3 separate regions of the Homo sapiens genome follow, and all the other regions are linked to region 1. Evidence: fine-mapped expression QTL. A gene starts in region 1. Each other region holds a variant in brackets. All regions are shown on one strand. Distances are between the middles of the regions.

Evidence for each region. PIP is the estimated chance that this variant, and not a neighbour inherited with it, causes the effect.
Region 2: its variant is the best candidate, but not a certain one, in a credible set for the expression of KIAA1217 in T cells (GENCORD, PIP 0.53).
Region 3: its variant is the best candidate, but not a certain one, in a credible set for the expression of KIAA1217 in aorta (GTEx, PIP 0.73).

Annotation. Positions count from the first base shown.
Region 1 is chr10:24,205,778-24,212,975 of GRCh38, reverse strand. KIAA1217 reads right to left here and starts at 3,838. Exons shown (of 21, transcript NM_019590.5): 1 at 3,713-3,838. The coding sequence starts at 3,782. RefSeq lists enhancers at 3,020-3,079, 2,453-3,652 and a silencer at 3,370-3,419.
Region 2 is chr10:23,853,573-23,860,770 of GRCh38, reverse strand. It overlaps a transcript of KIAA1217 not described here. Among named protein-coding and RNA genes, the nearest start is that of KIAA1217, 350 kb to the left of the region's middle. The variant C/T (reference allele first, on the strand shown) is at 3,764.
Region 3 is chr10:24,290,699-24,297,896 of GRCh38, reverse strand. The region is part of intron 2 of KIAA1217; the gene reads right to left. Among named protein-coding and RNA genes, the nearest start is that of MIR603, 19 kb to the right of the region's middle. RefSeq lists an enhancer at 4,326-5,525. The variant T/C (reference allele first, on the strand shown) is at 3,764.

The DNA.
Region 1 (7,198 bases):
TCACCCTAGGGATCCTTATCTATAGCAGGATAATAAACTCAAAGTCCCAAAGTGGTAAAATTAGCCTTTCATTCAACAAATGATTATTGAGTGCCTTCTACAGTGCCCAGTGAGTGCTCTGTTAGGTTGCCCAGTGCTCTGTTAGGTGCTGGAAATGCAAACGTGAATAAATAAAACATGGTCCTTGCTGTGGAATATCACATTGTCATTGGGTAAAACAGATACACAGGCAGACACAAGAGAGAATGCAATGATAGAAATGAACGTTATGGGTGATGTTAGCATCAGAGATGTTGCTCTCCCTTGCGGCACTCGTGCTCACCGGGAGAACTAAAAATGAAGCCATGCTTCTCTACAGCATCATATTCACCCAGAACTGAACAGGATTTTAAAAATCTAATTTGGATTTTTATTCCACTTTTGCTATTTTTTCCAGCCCTTCCTTCCAATCTCCCTGACCTCTAGATGCTGGACTGCCTCGGGGGGCATCCTTTGGACTTTTTCTTCTGCACACAGATTCAATCTTAGGGGATCTCTCAGTTCTCAGTCTTCCTTCAGCTCTAGTGATTAATATCCAAATTGTAGTCAACATCTCCACTTGGATACCTGATAAACTTCTCAATCCTAATCTATCAAAAGATTGCTCCTCAGAACCTCAAACCATAAACACCCTCTCATCTGTTCTTCGTAAATACTCCCCAACTTAGGCAAATGGCAACTCCGTTCTCCCAGCAGCTTACACCAAAATTTTGGAAGTTGTCTCTGACTCCTCTTTTTCTCTTACATCCCAAGTTGAATCCTTTAGCAATTGCTTTTGTCTTGTCTTGTTTGTCTTTTCTTTTTTCCTCTCCTCTCCTCCCCTCCTCTCTCTTCTTTTTTTTTCTTTTTTCTTTTTCCTTCCTTCTCTTTCTCTCTGTCTTTCTCTCTCTCTTTCTTTCAGAATCTTACACTGTTACCCAGGCTAGAGTGCAGTGGTGTAATCATGGCTAACTGCAGTCTCAACCTCCTGGCTGAAGTGATCCTCCTGCCTCAGCCTCCCAAGTAGCTGGGACTACAGGGCACTATGCCTAGCTAAATTTTTTTTTCTAGAGATGGGGTCTCACTATGCTGCCCAGGCTACAGGAAATGCTTTGGGCATTACCTTCAATATACACCTAGAATCTGCTGGCTTATCACCGCCTGCTAATCACCGCCTGGTCCAAGCTAGCCCTGGTTCTTGCCTCCTTGACTGCAGAAGCTTCCTAAAGGCCTCCCTGCCCTTCCCTCAACCCTACTTGGATTGTGCTCAATACAGCACCCAGTATTACCCCATTTAAAAAGACAAATCCCTTTGTAACTCACCTGGGCAACATAGCAAGACCCCTTCTCTAAAATAAAATAAAATACAATACAATACAATACAATACAATACAATACAATACAATACAATACAATACAATACAACCATGCATGGTGGCATGTCCCAGTAGTCCCAGCTATTTGGAAGCTAAGGCCAGAGGATTGCTTGAGCCCAAGAGTTCAAGGCTGCAGTGAGCTATGATCACACCACTGCACTCCAGTCTGGGTGACAAATGAGACCCTCTCTAAAAAAAAAAAAAAAAAAAAAAAAAAAAAGTAGTCCCACCTGCCAGGAGATTCCCACCTCTTTCAAAATAAAAGCTCTAGTCCTTACAATGGTTTCATGGGCCCTAGGTGATCTGGCCTGGGATTACCTCTCAATCTCTTTTCCTCCCATCCTTCTCCCATGTTCTTGCTGTTCTTTGAAAACATTACATCCCTGCTGTTACCTCTCCTGTCTTTGTTCAAATATCACTTCAGCGAAGCTCTTTCTAATAATCCTATTTACAGTTTCACTCCTTATTCCTTTTCCTGCTTTATTTTTCTCTGTAACCTTATTTCCATCAAATAGGGTTGCCAGATAAGATACAGGACTGCTCAGTTAAATGTGCACTTTACATAAATAATGGAGAAGTATTTTTAACATAAGTATATCCCAAATATGGCATGGGATATACTTATACTAAAAAAAAAAAAATTCACCGTTTACCTGAAATTCAAATTTAGCTGGGCCTCCTGTATTTTTATTTGCTAAATCCAGCAGCCGTGCCATCTAACATGCTATATATTTTATTTATTTGTTCATTGTCTGTCTCTACCAGCTCCCCACCCCCTGAAACTTGGTCCTTACACTGGAAGTTAAATGAAGGCAAGTATTTTTAGTCTGCTTTGTTCACCACTGGATGTCTGGCAGCTAAAACAGTGACGTCTACATAACAGATGCTCAATATTCACTGAATGAATGAATTAGTGAGCAAAGGAGCACACTGTCTCAGGCTGACCATCCTAGCCTCTGAAGCCTCTGAATTGCCCTGATTGTTGGAAAGTCATTTCTTAAATGGATCCCTTTCTAATGGCCCCTCTAGAATCTGAGTCATCTCTTTCAGGACAGGCCCAGAGGTTGAATTCCTGAAGTAGGATCCTGTCCTAGAAAATGGGGGTGGGGGGTTGCGGGGGTCAGGGGGACGAGGTAGCCTTATCTTCCACTGGATGCCACTGACCCCGGTAGCCTGAAGGAGAGTGCTGTGCTTTGGCAGCACGAAGGCAGACACTTCGACAGATGACTGTTCAGACTCAGGGATTCTCCAGCCATTACAAAACTTCAAGTTTTCTGCATTTCACTGGGGGATTTCTATCTCTTGTCATTGTAAGTTCTCCTGACTGGCTTAGCTTTGCATTTTCAGCGTGGATGAGTCATGTGTTACTTCCCTTTCACATTTTCATAAAACACACACCTTTTCCCCTGTGCATAATCCCTACTCCCACGCACAGCACTGCACTCCCGCACGTCTTTTTGTTGTGTACTGGCCCCTGCATGAACCTGAGGGAGGGTGGGGCGGGTGGTCCAGGGCTGTGTGGTTTATGAACATGCTGCCTATAGGATCCCACAGAATCAGCTCTTGGCATCACAGGCATCAGATGCCAGAGAGCAGGGACCTCCTCTGGCCACCCAACCCGGTGCGAAATTTCTTTGGAACAACATAAGCTTCTGGAAATTCCCTACGGAAAAGACAAGTCTATTATAAACACAATTAAAGGGAAACTGCCTGGAGAAAATTTACCAAAATTGTCCAACAACTCCCAAGTTTTGAATTAAAACATAAAAGAAGATCCAGAGTTCTATCTATCACCCAGATGCTCAAGCCCTCCCCTGCTGCTCGGATCTGTAAAATAAAACATGCCTGGTTTCTGTGATTTAACTCTAAAATTCTGCACAAACTTTGCAGCCAGCATGCATCTGCCACATGGAATCCCCCAACCAATGAATGGAAGCTGCGGTCCTAGAGACAGTTTCACAAAAACAGCTCCTTTCTCCCGTGGCTGGAGCCCCGGGGGGAAATGATTAAAAGCTGCTTAGTGATTTATTTGTCATTGCTTAGAGATACAGCTCATGCTGATGGCTCACTGCACTACAAATGTGACATCACCCCACCACCTCTTTTGCTGCTTAAGAAAATCGTGCCAGAGATAAAGTCAAGCCTAAGAAATCACAGTTCTCTATGCTCTACTCAGTTTGGAAAATGTACCATCCCAAGAAATTGCCTTTTTTTTTTTTTTCCTTTGCCGGGTCCCAGAGCTGCAGTTTATAAAAAGCAGCAAGCGGCAAGGGGCACGCGTCCCTGTAACTCCATCTTTGAATGGGTCTGTTACTTACCCTGCATCTGTCTTCTGTCTGCTGAGTAAGGAAGGCACGGCTCACATTTCTGGCTTTCATTTTCTTCCATTGTCTCTGCCTGCCGCAAAAGCTCCTCGCTCTCTGGAAACTTCAGAGCGCAGTTCTAAAAGCTCCCAGAAAGCGCCTGGGAGGGGGCCCGGGGCTGGGGAGGAGGGGACGGTGCGAAACCCCACCCCAAACTATTTTCCACTCCGGTGCAAAGTCTCCCTCGCCCGAGAAAACTGCATTCCAGCGCGGGGCCTCTTGGATCTCCCCTGCCCCTGGCCCTCCGTCCCTAGGTCTGTCCGTCCGTCCGTCCGTCCGTCCTCAGGCGCGCTCTCCGGGGACTGGGGGCTGGGCTCTGCCAGGGCAGGGCGATGCGGGGGTGTGGGGGGGAGGCCTCAACAGGTGACGGCCTCTCCTACCCACAACTGGGCCTGCCTGGTTCCACTGCTGCAAACCACCGAGGCTCTGCAGCCGAGGAAGGAAAACATTTCACACATGATTAAGGCCGAGAGCCTTCGCTGGGAGCCAGTGCCCTCATCTCTTTAATCTCAGAGGCAGAGTGAGCCTCCCAAATCGGGTGATCCACATATTAAAAAACAGCAACCTGTTGAACCTCCCAAATTTCAGTGAACTCCCTTAAAAAAAAATCCCAAACAATTTGAAAGAAAGAGTATATGCTGAGTGTTGTAAGTAAGCACTTTCCGGCACTAACTTTTTAGGGCCCGATTAACATCTATGAAGAGGTATAGCGTCATTTGCACACAGTCGATTTCAATCACTTAATCTGGACTTTTTAAAAAAAAGTTTCTACGTACTTGCTCACTTTCTCAGACTCCTCCCTCCCCCAACACACTTACACACACACACACACACACACACACACCCAGCCCTTAATCACAAATCTGAAAGGTAAACTAGTAAAGTCAATCTTCTGAAGCTCTCCCAGTTAACGACTCCAAAAATCTGAAAGACAGTGAAAATGCATTTCTTTGGACAGGCAGAGTTACAACCAACATACTTCTCCTTTTAAACCACCTACAAATATTTATTTTGTTCTTTACCCAGTCCTTGAAAAACTGGCAGAGTTCCCAGAGAGTGAAAATAGGAGGCATGATGTCCGAAAAAAAAAAAAAAAAGAGGATGGGAAAATAATTTAGGCAACATTAGCTCTGCGATGTCAGATATCTCAGAGTAACACAGTAGCTAGGAGGAAGAGCGCGATTTTGTAACCTGTAGTAGCCCCGTCACAGGAGGGGTAAAAAAGGACAATGGTTAGTCTGGTGACCATACTTTGCCCCAGTTTACAGGGCATTCCAGCAAGGTTTGAGATTGATTTAGATCAAGAATGTGTGCTGAACAATGGCCAGCCTATGTTCCAGATTGTGACCTCGAGTGACCTGTGTGTTTTGGCAGTGGGGGTGACGTATTTTGGCCATTTAAGACATAAGGATGTGGAAGCACCTAACAGACAAAGGATGTAGGCCAAAAGGAAAGGAGACATACCAGGAAGTGAGTTACACTCACGTCAGGAGGGGAAGAAGAGAGCCCCTCAATTCTTAACGGGATTTTTCTTGAAATCCAAGAAGACGCGGTGAATCTTTCAAAAAATTAAAGCAGTGCCTCGGCAGCCTGAATAGAGGCAGTGGGATTTGCAGGGCAGATAACTTAAGGTCTCTATGACTTTGCAACAGAATTACCTGGCAATCTTGCTTTAAGGAGGAACTAATCTTACACAGTTTCTGTCCTGGTGGCCCCTGGGCAAAGGCCAGATGAATCTAGTTTTAACCTTATTATTTCCTTAGGTGCAAAATGTTCATGAAGGAGGGCCCTGCTGTGTTCAGCCTTTCAGGTCCAGATCATCCTGATTCTTGTATACTGTTGTGTATTTGTCTTTAAAGTATTAATGCTAGGAAGAGTGGGGAGGAGGGTGGGAGAAAAGTATGTGTGTGTGTGTGTGTGTGTGTGTGTGTGTGTGAGAGAGAGAGAGAGAAACACTGTAGCAGGAGATGCAGCAGCCCAAATCAGATGTCCCGCAGCCTTTGGTTGTGACCCCAATCCCCTTGCTCTGGTGTCCAGAGAGCCCGTGCTTAACAGCTCCTACCTGTCATTTGGTGTAGCACAAAGGCAAAAACCCCAGGATGAAGGAGGCAGCAGAGGGCTGCCACAGCCGTTGGCAGCCACAAACAGCACCCTGCCCCAGGGCCCTCCTGGCTAGCTCAACCCAGGCAGAAAAGATCCATTGGCAGATGCTGATTAAGATTTCCTGGGGGCTGTTTGGAAGGTGTCAGAGCAGTCTTTCAGGCCTCTGTTGACCCCTAGATGGACAAAAATAGGGAAATGTCTCCCACCAGGTCTGAACTACCATTTTCCAGGCAGCCCAAGGAACCCCCTTGGTCAGCCGACCTTGCTTTCCAGCTGCTAGGACCCTCCCCTCCCCCATACGGGCCAAGCCCACTGCCCTCTCTGCTGATATTCCAGGAAACAAAACTCTGTGATATGCACAACAGAAAAAGGCATTGGGGGAAGAGAATTAACATGAATCATTAAGGATCATGAAACCTAGACATGTATTTATGGTAAAATAATGTTCTTTTGAATGATCAAACTTTCTGACCATTCTATAGGGAAAAGCTTCTATTGGATTACTTACTGGCCTTTTGTTCCTCCTTAAGAAGAGGAACTGAAAACAATTTGAGAAGGCACTCTATTTGCCCTTGCACCGACTATTCCATATCTTTCTCCAAAGCACAGAGACCTTCCTAACAATTTAGCACTGATTGTCAGTGTCTCTGGAAAACAGTAGCTGTATTCTGCAATCTATATAAACCTGGTAACTCCGATCTTCATGAAAATACTCTTATTGTCACTGCTGTTACTGTGGAGATGTTCTTCTTTCTGGAAGAAACACTATTTGAACTAGAAGTAGGTGTATTTCTTTCTGGTTTAATTTAATTTCTGGGCTTAAAAATTGCTATTACATTGCAATCTGCCTACTGCTATACTTTGAAATTTGCTGTGAAAGGCATAAGGAAAGCGGGAAGAACTTGAAATCTGATTTTCCTCCAGTCATATAAAGAACTAGAATAATAATAATACCAGGAGGCTAAGTTTTCAACTCCGTTTCTGTTAACAGGGAAAGGTGCAAGACTATTTCTTGGTTAGTGGTTCCATATGTTGCAATTCATGACTCAAAATGAGCTACCACATAAAACAAATGTCATTTAAAAGGAAAGACAAGTGACGAGATAAAAGAGTGCTGTAAAGACAAATGGTGATTTTGCAGTCATAGCTAACCCGTTACAGAACTGGACCATTATTGGTGTTGATAACGCAACGTAAATGGCATTCACCATAAAGAGAATTAATCACAAAAATCGTAAACAATTGCATATGATTTCTCAGCAGGCCAATTATAGGGTTGTGGAAAGCATGTCAACTTCCTTCATGTAAATTTTTCCTTTTTTCCTTCTTTCCTTTTTT
Region 2 (7,198 bases), 350 kb after region 1:
AGAACATTTTTAAAAAATTTAATGTTTCATGACTTTTATGTTGCCCATAGCAGGTTAAAAGCAAACCTTAATAACAGTTAACATCATCTTTATGATTATCTCTACAACAATTCCTTTATTATTAATGTAGTAGTAATGTATTTGCTTTTTTAAAACTGCATATCTGAATTGTTTACACATAAAGGAAGAAAGAAATGAGTTAGAATAACAATTCCTAACTCCAAAGTCTGTTTTTTAACCTATTTATTTTAAAATATATGTTCTGACATGTAAACATTTCATTACAATGTATAATATTGTCATTAAATTATATACCTTTTACATGGGGCAAGGGAATCTTGTCAGCTCTGATGGGAGTTACATAATGGAAATCATACTACACAGAAGACCAAAGTGAAATGGAATAGTTTCCAAGTAGGTTAGAAGCAAGGAGTAATGACGTTAAATTATCACCTAGGAAACCAGAGGTATAAATTTGTAAAGATTTTGCCATTAAGGTCAGTTAGAGTTTAGCGTCAAGATAAAAAAAAAAATGTGCATTTACCTCAGCTGCATTAAGGAAGATAAAGTCACAAAGACCAGCACAAGAAGGCAAGGAGAGCCCTGCCCAGAGCTGCTCATGAGGCCCAATCCTGTAGCTGCTCCCTGCTCTGAAGAGGAGGCCATGGAAATCAGAACGTACGAGGGGCAGGACTAGCTTGGGCACATCAATATTCCTGCTCGCTCTCAGCCCTCCTATACATAGACAAGTGACTATGTCAGCATTGTTGCTGCAAATGCCATTACTCAAATGAGCATATGACAAGGAGTGCATACACCTTTGAAAGTCTACATGATATTCTAATACCAAAAGGCAAGTCTTACAGGTCTGTGACTCTGAGTAATTGTTTTTTGTATTGGCTGCCAAGAAAAAAAAAAAAGAGGGATCACAGCAAAGTCATTTTAGACATTTGAGTCTAAACACAGTGACACTTTAATGAGGCTAATAAACTCATCTCTAAAAATGTTGTAAGTTTCTATACTTAGAAATTTTGCTAAAAGCATATGACCTTTTCTAAAGTACACATTGATTTATTCTTTGTGTAGAAACCTTTGCAACATGCCATGGCCAAAAGTAACAAAGTTCGTATTTAAATGTGAAATATTGAAGAACAACTGTTTACATGTGGATGAATCCCATATGTCACTACAGCCATAGTCTGACTATTGTAGATAGTGGTAATCCCTTGGGTGTCCCTAGAGCAAGGAATGCTTCAAGACATGTGATTAGTAGAAGGTTGTGCCATTATTTTGCAAAATATGACACCAAATATATTTTTATTTCAACCTAGATTAGAAAATAAATCAACCAATCAACAATGACAATTCCATTCAAGTTACCATTATCATTACATATAGAGAGTTTAGTGCCTATTGTTGGAAGTTGTAGGTTGCAGCAATTCTCAATCAAAGTCAATGCCAAAGGGCAAAGAGATCCCAGAAGCACTTAATATTAAGGCTGGAAAGGATCTTAGAGACTGTGTAGTCCAGAGGTTCCCAATCCACAGGCTTTAGGTCCATAACAAAGAAACCACCAATCTATAAATGTAACAAGTTTCACATGTTATACATATACATATGTATACACCCACACATATACAAAGACATATACATATATGGGTTCACACACACATTACATGTGGAATTATAGTATATTGAAATCATTTGTGTTTCTCCTTTCCAAGACGGTAGTCAGGGTCTTTGTGCTCCACTGGCTTAGAATAAGTTTAAATTTCTTCCTGCATTTTATCTTCTGAAACTCTAAACCCCTTGGAGAAATTAAGTTACGAGGGAGGAAAGAGAAGTGGTAGCTTTATATCTAAGTAAGGACGATTTTGAGATTGTACAGTAGACTGGAAGAGCAATAGAATCATAAGATGGAGAGTTTTCTACTATGTCTCTTAAGTCTTGGCAGGTGACACCTACAACCAGGTCTTTTAGACTTGAAAGGGCACCACGCCCAGAGAACCAGCAGATGAGGCAACTGTAAAAGGACCGAGTGGTGGGGGACAATGAGTATTTCAGTGGCAATCAGTGAGGGTTGAAGACTGGAGGGATCCTAGGACTGATGGGGAGCCCGATTATGACTGAAATTAGACTTATGATTATACTAACAGAATCATTTTTATGATATTCAGAGTCAGATTCAAGTTGTTTTTTTCAAAAAGCAAGAATTCAAGCAATGATACTGATATCTGCTATAGACATGTGTATACAACTGCTCTAAAGATGTGTGTGTATATTTATATGTATGTATATACACACACACATATGTTTGTGTGTATATATATATATACAGCATATATATATGCTGTTGTGGTGAATAAAAGGAAATATAATTTTAAAAAGTTCTAAGTTTATAGTTCTTTAGGTATCATCAATTTTTAAATCAGTGAACACTAAAATTACAACTGTCATCATGCTGGGTTCCTCACGACTATGCTGAAATGATGACACAGCAAGGCACATTCTCAGGCTAAATTGAAAATCACTGCTCTTCCCCATCCAGCTCATTTTTCAGGAGAAGAAACTGAGACCTGGCAGGATTAAGTCAGAGCCCAGAGAAGAGCCAAGGAAAGAAGATCCGGCCTTGGCTCCCGTTTCTTGAGTGGTCACAGTTGTCCTTTCCTGGCCCTCTTTCCTGCTGTATTCTAGAGAAATTACCAAGTAGCACAACTTTGTTCTTCCTCCCCTTCCATATCTGATCCTCTTGGCCTGTCTCCCAGCTGCTGTCTCCTACTTGAAGTCTCTGGCCCACCCCTCTTTTTTTTTTTTAACCAGATTGAAATATTTAAATGTTTTTGACATATAACTTAATAAAATGGCATTTTCACTGTTTCTAACTATTAAATTAGAAGGAATTTCAACCATATCTATAGTTTCCTCTATAAATACATACATATATATGAACATACATTCATCCATAAATCTAAATAGCTATCTCCTTCTAATATATTATAGCTGATTCTTTGTAAAGTTCTCAAGAAAAGATTCCCCACTCCTCTAAAGGTTGAGAGATGTCACTCCACTCACAGAAATTCTTAGAGGCAATGTGGTTTCCTAACTAGCTATGCATCAAAAGCGTGCAAACCGTTTATTATAAAATGCAAATTCCTGGGCCCCGACCCTAGACCTTCTGATTTAATACCTTTAACATGGACCTGTCATTCTCCAGATGATTGTGATATAGAGACAGGCTTGAAGACCTCACCTCTGAGGCACAAGGGCATGAATACATTTACAAAGGTGTTTTAATTACAGCTAGAGATCATCATTATTAATGACAGGGCCTGCTTTCAGAAAATCCTTTCCTTAATTGACCATTTTATTCTCATTCCTTCCTATTTATGGTCTCCTATTTCGTCCTGTCCTTTTTCTCTCTAATGAACAAAGTGAACTTATCAGCACTATTTGAAAAGATGCTCAGAAGAGGTGACAAAAAAATCCCTCATAGTCTGAGGAATAAGATGTTCTGACCCCTGAAGTCTATCTCAAGTCAGTATCGTATGGGGAGTGATATGGTTTGGATTCACATCCCTACCCAAATTTCATATAAAATTGTAATCCCTGAGAGAGCGCCAAGATGGCCGAATAGGAACAGCTCCAGTCTACAGCTCCCAGCCTGAGCGACACAGAAGACGGGTGATTTCTGCATTTCCATCTGAGGTACCGGGTTCATCTCACTAGGGAGTGCCAGACAGTGGGTGCAGGACAGTGGGTGCAG[C/T]GCACCATGTGCGAGCCAAAGCAGGGCGAGGCATTGCCTCACTTGGGAAGCGCAAGGGGTCAGGGAGTTCCCTTTCCTAGTCAAAGAAAGGGGTGACAGACAGCACCTGGAAAATCGGGTCACTCCCACCCTAATACTGCGCTTTTCCGATGGGCTTAAAAAAAGGCGCACCAGGAGATTATATCCCGCACATGGCTGGCAGTGTCCTACGCCCACAGAATCTCGCTGATTGCTAGCACAGCAGTCTGAGATCAAACTGCAAGGCAGCAGCGAGGCTGGGGGAGGGGCGCCTGCCATTGCCCAGGTTTGCTTAGGTAAACAAAGCAGTGGGGAAGCTCGAACTGGGTGGTGCCCACCACAGCTCAAGGAGGCCTGCCTGCCTCTGTAGGCTCCACCTCTGGGCACAGGTCACAGACAAACAAAAAGACAGCAGTAACCTCTGCAGACTTAAATGTCCCTGACAGCTTTGAAGAGAGCAGTGGTTCTCCCAGCACGCAGCTGGAGATCTGAGAACCGGCAGACTGCCTCCTCAAGTGGGTCCCTGACCCCTGACCCCCGAGCAGCCTAACTGGGAGGCACCCTCCAGTAGGGGCAGACTGACACCTCACACAGACGGGTACTCTTCTGAGACAAAACTTCCAGAGGAACGATCAGACAGCAGCATTCGCGGTTCACGAAAATCCGCTGTTCTGCAGCCACTGCTGCTGATACCCAGGCAAACAGGGTCTGGAGTGGACCTCTAGCAAACTCCAACAGACCTGCAGCTGAGGGTCCTGTCTGTTAGAAGGAAAACTAACAAACAGAAAGGACATCCGCACCAAAAACCCATCTGTACATCACCATCATCAAAGACCAAAAGCAGATAAAACCACATAGATGGGGAAAAAACAGAGCAGAAAAACTGGAAACTCTAAAAAGCAGAGTGCCTCTCCTCCTCCAAAGGAACGCAGTTCCTTACCAGCAACAGAACAAAGCTGGACGGAGAATGACTTTCACGAGTTGAGAGAAGAATGCTTCAGACGATCAAACTACTCCGAGCTACAGGAGAAAATTCAAACCAAAGGCAAAGAAGTTAAAAACTTTGAAAAAAATTTAGACAAATGTATAACTAGAATAACCAATCAGAGAAGTGCTTAAAGGAGCTGATGGAGCCGAAAGCCAAGGCTTGAGAACTACATGAAGAATGCAGAAGCCTCAGGAGCCGATGCGATCAACTGGAAGAAAGGGTATCAGTGATGGAAGATGAAATGAATGAAATGAAGCGAGAAGGAAAGTTTAGAGAAAAAAGAATAAAAAGAAACAAACAAAGCCTCCAAGAAATATGGGACTACATGAAAAGACGAAATCTACGTCTGATTGGTGTACCTGAAAGTGACGGGGAGAATGGAACCAAGTTGGAAAACACTCTGCAGGATATTATCCAGAACTTCCCCAATCTAGCAAGGCAGGCCAACATTCAGATTCAGGAAATACAGAGAATGCCGCAAAGATACTCCTCGAGAAGAGCAACCCCAAGACACATAATTGTCAGATTCACCAAAGTTGAAATGAAGGAAAAAATGTTAAGGGCAGCCAGACAGAAAGGTCGGGTTACCCACAAAGGGAATCCCATCAGACTAACAGCGGATCTCTCAGCAGAAACTCTACAAGCCAGAAGAGAGTAGGGGCCAATATTCAACATTCTTAAAGAAAAGAATTTTCAACCCAGAATTTCATATCCACCCAAACTAAGCTTCATAAGTAAAGAAGAAATAAAATACTTTACAGACAAGCAAATGCTGAGAGATTTTGTCACCAACAGGCCTGCCCTAAAAGAGCTCCTGAAGGAAACACTAAACATGGAAAGGAACAACCGGTACCAGCCACTGTGAAATCATGCCAAATTGTAAAGACCATCGAGGCTAGGAAGAAACTGCATCAACTAACGAGCAAAATAACCAGCTAACATCATAATGACAGGATCAAATTCACACATAACAATATTAACTTTAAATGTAAATGGACTAAATGCTCCAATTAAAAGACACAGACTGGCAAATTGGACAAAGAGTCAAGACCCATCAGTGTGCTGTATTCAGGAAACCTATCTCATGTGCAGAGACACACATAGGCTCAAAATAAAAGGATGGAGGAAGATCTACCAAGCAAATGGAAAACAAAAAAAGGCAGGGGTTGCAATCCTAGACTCTGATAAAACAGACTTTAAACCAACAAAGATCAAAAGAGACAAAGAAGGCCATTACATAATGGTAAAGGGACCAATTCAACAAGAAGAGCTAACTATCCTAAATATATATGCACCCAATACAAGAGCACTCAGATTCATAAAGCAAGTCCTGAGTGAACTACAAAGAGACTTAGACTCCCACACGATAATAATGGGAGACTTTAACACCCCACTGTCAAAATTAGACAGATCAACGAGACAGAAAGTTAACAAGGATACCCAGGAATTGAACTCAGCTCTGCACCAAGCGGATCTAATAGACATCTACAGAACTCTCCACCCCACATCAACAGAATATACATTTTTTTCAGCACCACACCACACCTACTCCAAAATTGACCACATAGTTGGAAGTAAAGCACTCCTCAGAAAATGTAAAAGAACAGAAATTATAACAAACTGTCTCTCAGACCACAGTGCAATCAAACTAGAACTTAGGATTAAGAAACTCACTCAAAACCACTCAACTACATGGAAACTGAACAACCTGCTCCTGAATGACTACTGGGTACATAATGATATGAAGGCAGACATATAGATGTTCTTTGAAACCAACGAGAACAAAGACACAACATATCAGAATCTCTGGGACACATTCAAAGCAGCATGTAGAGGGAAACTTATAGCACTAAATGCCCACAAGAGAAAGCAGGAAAGATCCAAAATTGACACCCTAACATCACAATTAAAAGAACTAGAAAAGCAAGAGCAAACACATTCAAAAGCTAGCAGAAGGCAAGAAATAACTAAAATCAGAGCAGAACTGAAGGAAATAGAGACACAAAAATCCTTCAAAAAATTAATGAATCCAGGAGCTGGTTTTTTGAAAGGATCAACAAAATTGATAGACTGCTAGCAAGACTAATAAAGAAGAAAAGAGAGAAGAATCAAATAGATGCAATAAAAAATGATAAAGGGGATATCACCACCAATCCCACAGAAATACAAACTACCATCAGAGAATGCTATAAACACCTCTACGCAAATAAACTAAAAAATCTAGAAGAAATGGATAAATTCCTCGACACACACACCCTCCCAAGACTAAACCAGGAAGAAGTTGACTCTCTGAATAGACCAATAACAGGCTCTGAAATTGTGGCAATAATCAATAGCTTACCAACTAAAAAGAGTCCAGGACCAGATGGATTCACACGCGAATTCTACCAGAGGTACAAGGAGGAATTGGTACCATTCCTTCTGAAACT
Region 3 (7,198 bases), 85 kb before region 1:
ACCTTTCACTTTGTTCCCCTACTAGCTTCTCTCAGTTAAAATCCTTGATGTGATTGTCTACTCAGACATCTGCTTCTTTTAACAGGCAGTCATTTAAAGACTCCAGTTTCTTTCTTTAAATTTTTAAATTTTTTATTTTTTGAGACAGAGTCTTGTTCTGTTGCCCAGGCTGGAATGCAGTGGCATGATCTCAGCTCACTGCAACCTCCACCTCCCAGCTTCAAGTGATTCTCCTGCCTCAGCCTCCTGAGTAGCTTGGATTACAGGCATGGGCCACTACACCCAGCTAATTTTTATATTTTTAGTAGAGATGGGGTTTTACCATCTTGGCCAGTATGATCTTGAACTCCTGACCTGACCTCAGGTGATCCGCCTGCCTTGGCCTCCCAAAGTGCTGGGATTACAGGCATGAGACACTGCACCCAGTCTAAAGACTCCAGTTTCTTTATGATCATTGAGATGGGGACTGAGCAACTGGCACCTTCCCTGTCTGTCCATCAAGGGGCATGTGCTGGATGTGTGTGGATGCTACTTCCATTAGGCAAACTCATGGTAGTTACTTACGTCACACTGAGGAGAAACAGACCACTAAGCATGCAATTATTAAACACAAATGTAGTCAGTGGATCTGTTTCCTTAACAGAACATGGCCCTGCTGCATTGTACCCTTCAACCAACTGCTCCAATTATTGTGACAAACAAAAGTAGCCCCCAAAATTTTCACAATATGCCATAGTGGGTGGTCCTTTTGCCTGGTTTTAGCTGTAGAGAGATAATCTTCCTTACTTTATATGTTTCTCCCCATTCTTGTTTTATTCCTAGACAGCTAACAAGCCTTTAATATCAAATTCTTTTGCATTTTGAAAATCCCAGTGTATTACAGTCTCATGTCCTTCTGTGGTTGGTATCAAGTAAGTGAGAGTTGGAATACTCAGCTTTTGACAGCGACAGAGACCATCCTCCTGTAGTTGCCACGTACTTGGTCCTGAAGATCACAGCTGATAAGATTATAAAACTATACACGTGTAGAGTGCTTATTTTTAGATGCTAGCAATTTCTTTTTTTGCACATAATCTGTATTTAGCCCCAATTAGCAAGCTTTCTCTCTATCCTTCTTCGCGAAGGCCAAACACTACCCAGTGAGGGTACACAAAAAATGAAAGAAAGAAAAACTATCAAAGGTGATCTGAAATAACAAATCCAAGATTTTAAAAGAAGAAAAGGGTTTCCACGTTTTTAAGACTCAAAATGGTCATAGGAAAATGGTACATGTTGGGTTACGTTTTCTATGTTTGAGTAATTATGAGGTAACCTCCCTCTAAGTCAATGAGAAGAAACTCAGCTTTTAATGTGATTTATTCATTAGTTGTTCAATAGCTATCCAGGGAGTCTCTGCTTTATACAAGGTTCTGTGCAATGTACAAAGCCAGAACTCCCAACTCAGCTGCATTGGAATCACCTGGAGACCCCTTGTTAAAATGTGGATCCTGGCCGGGCATAGTGATTCACTCCTGTAATTCCAGCACTTTGGAAAGCCTAGGCGGGAGGACTGCTTGAGAGGCCAGGAGTTTGAGACCAACCAGCCTTGGCAACATGGAGACACCTCTCTACAAAAAAACTTAAAAATTAACTGGGTTTGATGATGTGCACCTGTAAGGCCAACTATTCAGGAGGCTGAGGGGAGAAGATCGCTTGAGCCCAGGAGGTCAAGGCTGCAGTGAGCAATGATTGTGCCACTGCACTCCAGCCTGGGCAACAGAGTGGGCCCCTGTCTCCAAAAAGAAAAAAGAAAAAAAATGTGAATTCTGATCCCACATATCTGAGATGGGGGCTGACAGTCTGCTTTTTGAGCAAGCTCACAGGTGACACCCTTACTGCTGGCCAGCAGAGGACATTTTAAGTACTAAGGCACATTAAAGAATAAAATAATTAAACATGGACCCTGCCTTCAAAGAACTTACAATTTGCATAAGGAGATATACGTTTTTCCAAATCAAACAGAAGAGCCATGTGCCATAAGAGCGATACAACAGGTCAAAGAATTAATTACTCCTGGCTCAGGAGTGGTAGCATGTCTGGGATGAAGAAGGTGGCATTTAGGTTGATTTCTTAGTGAAGGAAGGATTGGTAGCAATAGGGAGGTATAGAAGGGAGAGGATGCCCGGCAGAGGGACCAGTGTCAACAAAGAGACCCTTCACCCTCAGATGAAGAGGGAGAAGTTCCACCAGGAGGGAATGCCTGTTGGAGGTGTGGATAAAATGGTGAAACAGGGGCCTGAGAAATTGGCCTGAGAACAACTGGGGAAGCACCCGGGACACAAATCAAGAAGTCTAGAACTGAGCTTTATGACAACTGTCCTCAGAGCAGTGGGAGAAACAAACAAAGGGGCGGAGGAAAGGAAATTGAGGCTGAAAGACCAGTGAAGGGGCTCCTGAAATAGTCCAGAAGAAATAAATCCTAAAGTAGACACAGTCATAAATCTTTGATAAGAAACGAAAATGCTGAACTATTTATATCTGAGTTTCCCATATTGGATCTTACTTGAATAATGATCCATCTTTTCCTCATCTGACAAGCAGTTACCAGCATTTCTTTAAGGGTTAGAGAAAGATATATTAATTAAAAGTTGTAAGATGATGTTCTTGGAATGCTCACTCCTGGATTATGCTGGAAATAACTAAGAGATGCTATAATTATTTTAAGAGACTTAAGATATAAGTTCTCTATTAACAAATAGTGTCCCACCTAACACAAAATACTCAGTCATTTTTCATTCTCAGAAGAGGAGGTCTTAGCCTCACTGACCATATTTCTCCTTACTTCAATGCCCAATACTATGTTGGTTTTAGGTCAGCCCAGAAGAGAGACATTTCTAGTATTTCCAGAGAAAAGCATCTGGTTTTGAAATATAGTGAGAGGGGCCGCCTCCAGAATAGTAGTTTACAGAGTGGGAGAATGCAAGGTATTCCACAGTAGAAAATATTGTCATTTTAAATTCTCCAATTCCCAGACTTTCAGGCAGGGTATGTGTGATTTGACACCCTGGCAATGTGGACAGTGACCGAATTGCACTTGCCTTTCAGGTCCTAGAGTTTCAGACCCCTGACTCCTTTCCTGTCCCTGTAGGAGACATCAGAAGTCTCTGAAGTATGCAGAAGACTAAATGGAGATCTTAAAGTTTCCACGTTCCTTTCTAAATCCTAATTAAATGAAAACTTTTCTAAGGAAAAAGCTTGCTCTGAAGCAGTTGGTTGAAGTGTACAGTGGAGCAGAACCATGTTCTGTTAAGGAAACAGATCCACTGACTACGCTGGTGTTTACTAAATGCATACACGGTGGTCTATTTCCTCCTCAGTGTGAACGTAGCTAACTGCCATTAACTTGCCTAATGAAAGTAGCATCCACACACATCAAACACATGCCCCTCAATGGACAGACAGGGAAGGTGCCAGTTGTTCAATCCCTGTCTTGATGATCATAAAGAAACTGGAGTCTGTAAACCACTACCTGTTGAAAGAATTAGATGTCTGGGTAGGCAATCACATCGATAATTTAAACTGTGAGAAGCTAGTAGGGGAAAAGAGTGAAATGTACATGAAATGGGACAGAACTGCCTGAACCAAGCAGGCAAATGTAGAGCCCCAAGGTGGCCAGTCCACTCCACGTGGAAAGGAACTATTTCTTTTTTTTTTTTTTTTTTTTTTTTTTGAGACGGAGTCTCGCTCTGTCACCCAGGCTGGAGTGCAGTGGCGCTATCTCGGC[T/C]CACTGCAAGCTCCGCCTCCCAGGTTCATGCCATTCGCCTCAGCCTCCCCAGTAGCTGGGACTACAGGCGCCTGCCACCACGCCCGGCTATTTTTTCTATTTTTATTAGAGACGGTGTTTCCCCGTCTTAGCCAGGATGGTCTCCATCTCCTGACCTCGTGATCCGCCCGCCTTGGCCTCCCAAAGTGCTGGGATTCCAGGCGTGAGCCACCGCACCCGGCCAGGAACTATTTCAAAGACGTCGGTCGGAGACCTTCATGCCAGGACACCAGCAAGCTGGCAAAACAGATCTTGCAAAGGGTTTCTGCACTCTATCTGTGAGCTTCATTAATAGGCACTCAGGACTGAGAACCTTCATGTCAGCTGTGACAAGTGAATAGTCAGTAGAGAGAAGCTATTAATTTAAGACACCGTTGATAATGCAGTCTACCTTAAGAACAGGCAACAAGGGGCTTCAGATGCTGAAGCACAGACACAAGACATCCTGGAACTCCAAGTCCAAAGGGGAATGCTCAGGGCAGATATCAACAATGAAACCTTTTAAGCTGAGTCACTCTCAGCCTGACGGCTGCCAAGCCCAACAGCCATCCCTGGTTACAAGCTAGAGGAAAAGTCCCTGAGCATATCTGTTGTTTCCTGTGTGTAAAGATGCTAAATGCCAGGTGCTTTCCTCTAGAGTGGAAGGGCCGGGGCGGGGCAGTGCCTGCAGAGGCAGCAAGGTCAAGAGAGTTCATTTGGTTATTGCCATTAAAAAAGACTTCCCAGCCAGGCGCGGTGGCTCACGCCTGTAATCCCAGCACTTTGGGAGGCCGACGCTGGCAGATCACTTGAGGTCAGGAGTTCAAGACCAGGCTGGCCAATGTGGTGAAATCCTGTCTCTACTAAAAACAAAAACAAACAAAACAAACAACAACAACAACAAAATTAGCCGGGCATGGTGGCACATGCCTATAATCCCAGCTACTCGGGAGGCTGAGGCAAAATAACTGCTTGAACCCAGGAGGCAGAGGTTGCAGCCAGCCAAGATTACGCCACTGTACTCCTGGCTGGGCGACAGAGGGAGAGTCTGTCTCAGAAACAAAACAAAACAAAAACAAAAAACAACTTCCCGAGCATGCATTTTGGGTGCATCTTGAAGTGCAGCTTGTAGCATGTAGAAATTGGCCTTCTGGTTCACAGAGTGCTGCAAGTGAAGTACTAGATGTCTGCGTATTTCCAGATATACTCAGATCATATTTCAGGCCACCTTTCTTCTTTTTTTTTTCTAATCCAGGATGCGCTCAGGATTCCCTCTCCACTCACCATGAAGAACTTCAAGTAGCGGCCACACTTTGCAGTGCCTCTCACTCAGGCTGCGATATCCTAAGCGTTTACCTTCATTCCGTGGAAACTCTTGAAACAGCCCATGTCAATCATGACTCAGCAGTTTTTCCTTACCATGAAAACAGCAGAGCAATGGGTTTCTCCATTTTTAGAGTTAATGCATTAGCTATAAATGTAATTCCATAGTAGATATGAAGTGCAACAAAAAAAAGTCTGGGACAAATTCTGCCACTTTTCAGAGGGTAACAGGAGATGGTTGACTCAAGATGGAATGTAAGAACCCTCATGGCCTCCCTACCCTTCTCTTTAACCTCTTCATGGTTGTGCAGAATAAACCTCTAATACTTCTGATGAGTGAGGCAAATGGCCTTCCTGTAAAGGCAGAACCCCAAGAATTTTCAAGAAAGTTTGTGTGGCCAGCCTGAGGTTCCAGGGAAGAGGAATGGGTATTTGGAATAGAGAAATACAGTGGTTAATTCTGAGCTCCAAGTTATTGGTCCAAATTGGTCTACTTCAATTCCTTGGTCAGTCTTTTGGAGTTTTCCATCAGTTAAACAATGTCCACGGTAAACTGCCATGACCACTTAACCTCAACTGCAAACTACATCCACTTAATCCTCTGGGGTCCCTTTTTATTCATAATAAATCCAGAAAAATCTTGTATTGTGTTTTATTTCCTCAATCATATCTCCTTTAATTCTCCAACAAGCCTTTCCTGATTAGAAAAGCCAGAAAACTCATCCAAATATCTCTGTTGAAGAGCTGGACAAAGTTTTCAAGTATTATTGAATTTTTAATCCACTAAACAAAAATCCTCCAATGTTGTTCCATTTTATTTCAGGGTCTAGTTTCTCTATGCAACTGCAAGGGTAGGGGCCACCTATTTATTTTTATTTACAGACCCATGTGTATATGGGAGAATTTAACATATACAAAAGGAACCCAAATTTTTTAGTCTTAGACTTTCAGGATTCCCTGTATTTAAATAATAGCTATTGATCTAAAAAATCTGCAAGAGAAATGTAATCCTTAGATTTTTTTTTTCTCCACATCGGAGTAGTAAAGCAAAATGAAATGGGTGAATGCTGTTTGTCAACTCTATGGTGGTATAAAAAAATGGTGTAGTGTGACCAAAAGCATACTTCTGATGAAAGCCCACTACCGGACAGGACACAACCTATAAGTTACTGTCCCCACAGACTGCCTTACAAGTGTCCTCACGCTCCAAAGAGGACTGGGAGAGGTAGAAGTGAAATGATTGAGTGAAGTTTTCTTTTTCTGAGATGGAGTGTCACTCTTGTTGCCCAAGCTGGAGTGCAATGGTGCGATCTTGACTCACTAGAACCTCCGCCTCCCAGGTTCAAGTGATTCTCTTGCTTCAGCCACCCTAATAGCTGGGATTTCAGGCACCTGCCACCATGCCTGGCTACTTTTTTGTATTTTTAGTGGAGACAGGGTTTTACCATGTTGGCCAGGCTGGTCTGGAATTCCTGACCTCAGGTGATCCGCCCGCCTCAGCCTCTCAAAGTGCTGGGACTACAGGCGTGAGCCACCATGCCCAGCCGATTGAGTGAAATTTTCTAAGATAATTGTTGGTCATATCCCACAGGGGACTGGGCTCTAGGATAGCCCATGCTTATATGGGAAGAAAAGTTATCGTGGGTCTTTGTTGTCCACAAGACAACCTCAGGGATCTCTTCCTATCCCAACAACCTCTGTCTATGTCAACAACCACTGTGGTCAACAAGAAGGAGGAAGCATTCCAAAACTTATTCACACAGAACAACTCAAATATAGATGATGGAGGAAAAACAAACTTTGAAAAGAGGGCACAATTTGCCATTCCCACTGGATGTATTTTAAACAACCCCCTGCCCCACACAATAAAAGGTCTTAAGAGAGACTTCATGGCCAGGCACGGTGGATCATGCCTGTAATCCCAGCACTTTGGGAGGCCGAGGCAGGTGGAGCACCTGAGGTCAGGAGTTTGAGACCAGCCTAGCCAACATGGTGAAACCCTGTCTCACTAAAATTACAAAAATTAGCCAGGCATGGTGGTGGGCACCTGTAACCCCAGCTACTTGGGAGGCTGAGGCAGGAGAATCGCTTGAA